2 separate regions of the Homo sapiens genome follow, and region 1 is linked to region 2. A link means that fine-mapping ties the variant in region 2 to the expression of a gene that starts in the linked region. Tissue or cell type: unexposed skin. Region 2 holds a variant in brackets; the other region holds the start of a gene. All regions are shown on one strand. Distances are between the middles of the regions.

Region 1 (2,748 bases), 220 kb after region 2:
TCCATCAATGGATGAATGGATAGAAAAAAGTGGTCTATCCATGCAATGGAGTACTACTCAGCCGTAAAAAGGAATGAAGTATCAGCCGGGTGCAATGGCTCACGCCTGTAATCCTGACACTTTGGGAGGCCGAGGCAGGCAGATCACTTGAGTCCAGGAGTTTGAGACCAGCCTGGACAAAATAGTGAGACCCCGTCTCTTTAAAAAAAAAAATTGAATGAAGTATCAACACATGCTACAACATGGATGAGCATTGAAAACACGCTAAGTGCCACAAAGGACCACATATTATGTGATTCCATTTATATGAAATGTCCAGAATCGGCAAATCCATAGAGGCAGAAAGGAAATTGATGGGTGGGAAGGAGGAGGAACAGTGTTGGAAATGATGGTGAAGGAGTGTGGGATTCCTTTTGAGTCGATTAAAATATTCTAAAATTGATTGTGGGGATGGTTGCACAACTCTGGGAATAATCTGAAAATCATTAAATGGTACCCTTTAAATGGGTCAATTGTATGGTGTATAAATTATATCTCAGTAAGTTTCTTTTAGAAGAAACAAAAACCAAAAAGCAGGGCCTTCCTGACGTTGGTGAGGACCTAAAGTTATAACACATTTTCAAGCCTGGTCCTATTCCTCCCAAGCATGGTGACTCAGATGCCAGCATGATCACCAGGCGTGCCCTGAGATCCTCGCCTCCTCCCTGGGGATCCAGGGTGTTGCCCTGCGCTTTCCTACCTTCCCCAGGCACGCCCTGCCCTGCGCGCCCTGGCGGGCCTGAAGTAGAGCAGAAAGGAATCCCGCTTGTCCTGTGGCTTCTCTCTGCTGCAGCCTGGCACCGTTTCCTCTTGCCTGCTGCTGCTTCCTCCCTCCCGCCCAGCTGGCTGTGAGAGCACGTCTCAGATTCGAAAACCATGTGAGATTCAGAATGTGCACCTGAAGCTGCCCGCTGGGGCTTTCTGTGCTGTCGGCCACTGCAGAGATCTGGGTCCTCCCCAGATCCCACTTACCAAACGTAGGAAAAGATGATCACGTGGAAGAACCACTTAATGGTGCCATAATTCATGCTCTGGATCCGAGTGACTTTGTTCGTCTCATACTGGAAAACATCACTGCAGCTGCAGCAGGCCGGCATGGTGACAGCCTCCCTCCCTGCGCGGAGCTGGACCAGAGCTCTACTCTTCCTGACAGGGCCACAGCAAGCCCCCTCCCAGTAACTGCAAAATGAAACGTACTGGTTTTTAGCAGGAGTCTTTAACTTCAAGCTCCTCCAATGACTGCAGAGTTGGGGCGGGCCCTGGCAGTGGCCCCACATGTGGCTGTGATAAACAAGAAGCGCCAAGTCCTACGGGCCTGGCTGGCAGATGACCTCACCCCAGCTGGCCTCCCCCAGATGCCTACACAAAGATGGTGTTCAGAGGATGGGCATTTTTAGAATTCTCCCTTTTCCCCCCTTTCCTTTCACTTTTTTGGTCTCATGTCTCTTGGGAGAAAGGGGCAGCCTTGCAAATGTCACAAGACTGGGAGCTTCCATTATGCCTCAGAAAAGGACTGAGATCTTTCCATTGCCTGAAGCCCCACTCAGAGATTGATTCATTCATTTCTACAACCCTTTATTCAGCCCCTGATGTATAGGAGCTCTGGGTAAATGAAGATCTCCCCCTCTTCTTCCACCGCCCCTTATAATACTCTGGTCTGCAGTTGGTGGGGGAAATCAGATTTGCAGGGGTAGGGGTGGTGGGGGTGGAGGGGCTTTATTTTTCTGCCAGATCTTTCATGCTTGACCCTCTGAGTTACTCTCCACCCTCCTCTGCACCCCGGCAGGTCGATCTATGACCTAGACCAATCAGCCAAAGATCACCAGGGACACAGTGGCAGTCCAACAAAGTTAGGTTTGTTGACCTATTCAGTGAGGGACACCACCCACCAGAAGAGCTACGCACATCACCAAACAAAGGAAAACAGCAATTTATTATAGGATTCCGAGGAAAGTGGAGTTGAGATAAAATCTAAATGAAGTCATGTTTTGATGGACTCAAAGCAAAACAGGTTTGTACAAAGCAGTCAACTTCAGTCTGGATTGCAAAGAGGACCCAGGGCCCTGTTTCCTAGGAAGCAACATAGCTAAGATACATGTCAAATGTGTCCAGAAAATCTTTATCTGAAGCTCTGCTCCTGAGTTGTAAATTGAGGCTGCTTCTCTGTGTCAAGATGACTTAAATCTTCCAGGCAAAATTGGAATATTTCAGTCTTAGTCATGTAATTTCAAACAGCAAAGTTTCTGAAGGTCTCTGATTTTAAAGGACAATGTTTCAGCAGTCACTCAAAGATGCAGGGTTGTATTATCACTTTACAGCTACAGAGAATTATTGTTCCCTGTTATCTTTACAGCTGGCTTGATCCCTTTCTGTTATTCCAGCCTGCTAAGTGGCCGGGTAGATTTTCAGTTTTTCAGTCTAAACTAATTGTACTTTCTCACACATACAAACTGCATCAGGGTTCCCCTCACCTTCTGGCTTCCAGTTCAGGAGACTGGAGAGCAGTGAGGATGGACGTGACTCCCTGGCCCTGCCCTTCTCAGTTGCATATAGGCAGGGCTTCTGGGCACCACTCCCTCCTTTAGTCCTGGGAGTGGTAAGGGCTCCCCACTCTTACCAGCCCCAGGAAGCTCACTATCTCCTATTGCTTTTTCTTAACTCTGTCCACACCTTTGTAAATGGTTCCATCATTAGTTACCCCACTTGAGT
Region 2 (2,500 bases):
GGATAAGCATTGTCTGTTGAGTAACAGTGATGGCAGAAACAGATCTGGGTCCCTGGGCCTCTATATTATGGGATCTTAAAAGATAAACCTAATAAAATTAGTGTCTAGAGTTGCATTTATATTCCTTAGTATAGTTTATAAAGGCTTTTTTAAAAAATTTATCACTTGTATTTGTGGGTGAGGGGCATGGGAAGAGGGGAGAACTGAGGACACCATGGTCAAGAGACCTACCCAGTTAAATAAAAGGGATGTCTTTATAACTTGTGGCTCCCAGGGCTAGCCACGTCTGCTATTACTATAAATGCATTTCCCTCCATTATTAAAGTTATAATACTAAAATTTTGGTAAATAAAAGGCCGGGTGGGATCACACCTGTAACCCCGGCACTTTGGGAGGCTGAGGTGGGTGGATCACTTGAGGTCAGGAGTTCGAGACCAGCCTGGCCAACACAGTGAAACCCCATCTCTACTAAAAATACAAAAAAAAATTAGCCGGGCATTGTGATGTGCGCCTGTAGTCCCAGCTACTCGGGAGGCTGAGGCAGGAAATCATTTGAACCCAGGAGGTGGAGGTTGCAGTGAGCTGAGATCACATCACTGCACTCCAGCCTGGGCATCCGTCTCCAAAAAAAAAAAAAAAATAGAAACAGTGATTCTGGTCTCTTAACTCTCACCTTCCTGCTCATGTTGTTTTTTGCTGTTTGGAATTCTTTCTGGTTTTTAACCTGGCTAACTACTATATAGTTATTTTATTTAATTTTTTATTTTTAAATTTATTTTTTTTTTAATTTTTTTAGAGTGGTGGGATCTCACTCCCTCAGTCACCTGGGCTGGAGTGCCGTGGTGCGATCCTAGCTTACCATAGCCTCCACCTCCCAGGCTCAAGCTGTCCTCCTACCTCAGTCTTCTAAGTAGCTAGGACTACAGGCACCTGCCACCATGCCTGGCTAATTTTTAAATTTTGGTAGAGATGTAGTCTCCCTATGTTGCTCAGGCTAGTCTTGAACTCCTGGGCTCAAGGGATCCACCTGCCTCAGCTTCCCAAAGTGCTGGCATTACAGGCATGAGCCACCACACCTGGCCCCCTACTGTATAGTTTTAATCAAAATGTATGTAGAGTTCATCTAGTAGCATCCCAGCCAGACCTCAACTCCTTTACTAACTGTTTGATTTCTTAAATTAGTTAATTTTTGGCTTGGTGCCTAGACTTTGGGAGGCCAACGTGGGAGGATCACTTGAGCCTAGGAGTTCAAGAGCAGCCTGGGCATGGGATTTCACCATGTTGTCCAGGCTGGTCTCGAACTCCTGACCTCAAGTAATCTGCCTGCTTCAGCCTCCCAAGGCGCTGGTATTACAGGCGTGAGCCACTGCGCCAGGCCCCAAATGGTCTTTTTAATGGCTGCATTATATTTCACAGTAAGAAAA[G/A]CAACATAATTCAACTCTGTATTATAAATTAAGTCTTTATTGGACTTACAGGCTCCTTTCAGTTTTTCTTCATTTCAAACAATGTATGCCAAAATAACTTCCCTAGAAGTGCAATTGCTGGGTTATCCACATCTAAAGTTGGCATATATGCAGTCATCTTATTCTCTGAAAAAGAGTCTAAATTTAGTTTTAAATCTCAACTAGACTGTAATCTTCTTGGTAGCTGAGGTTGCATACTCTTTATTCCTTGTGGTACTCTTTTTTTTTTATTGGAGACGGAGTCTTGCTCTGTCGCCCAGGCTGGAGTGCAATGGCGTGATCTTGGCTCACTGCAACCTCCACCTGCCAGGTTCAAGCCATTCTCCCGCCTCAGCCTCCCAAGTAGCTGGGACTACAGGTGTGTGCCACCATGCCTGGCTAATTTTTGTGTTTTTAGTAGAGACGGGGTTTTGCCATGTTGGCCAGGCTGGTCTTGAACTCCTGGCTTCAGGTGATCTGCCCACCTTGGCCTCCCAAAATGTTGGGATTATAGGCATGAGCCACTGTGCCCGGCCTCTCGTCATACTCTTTATAGACTTCAGCACATAGTATGTCTGCCTACCTTACAAGGTTTGGGAGAAGATCAAATGAGATTGTGTTTGTGAAAAATAGTATTTGTATAGTGTTTTCCAGTTTACAAAGCACTTTGTATTATCTTATTTAATCTTTGCCAAAAACAAGGGAGATATTATTATCTCCATTTTACTGATGAAGGAAACTAGAACTCAGAGGTCACAATTTTGCAATGATTACAAAGCTAAGAAGGAAGGAACAGTGGATCCTCAGACTATAAATCCTATGCTTTTTTTCTATTTTAGACCATTCCACTGACTAGACAAAAATGGTATGCAAATGTGAAGTATTACTTTAGTGTTTTAGGTAGATAGAAAAATCCTTATTTGCATGTTTGGAGTGATTATTAAAGCAGAGGGGTTGATAAATGAATTTATGTTTGCAATTCTTTATCAGTCTCCAGCTCTTTAAAATCCATACCTCCCTATCTCTCCTTTACACAGGGCCCAGATATTACACTGTCA

Evidence for each region. PIP is the estimated chance that this variant, and not a neighbour inherited with it, causes the effect.
Region 1: it holds the start of P2RX7, and the variant in region 2 is fine-mapped to the expression of P2RX7 in unexposed skin (GTEx, PIP above 0.99). The same link has a PIP of 0.9 or more in tibial nerve and whole blood.

The regions. Positions count from the first base shown.
Region 1 is chr12:121,131,359-121,134,106 of GRCh38, reverse strand. P2RX7 (purinergic receptor P2X 7) reads right to left here and starts at 1,231. Exons shown (of 13, transcript NM_002562.6): 1 at 1,012-1,231. The coding sequence starts at 1,136. All of the region lies in intron 2 of LOC105370032 (a long non-coding RNA gene), which reads left to right.
Region 2 is chr12:121,347,861-121,350,360 of GRCh38, reverse strand. ANAPC5 (anaphase promoting complex subunit 5) reads left to right here. Exons shown (of 17, transcript NM_016237.5): 2 at 2,480-2,500. Among named protein-coding and RNA genes, the nearest start is that of ANAPC5, 3.3 kb to the left of the region's middle. The variant G/A (reference allele first, on the strand shown) is at 1,425.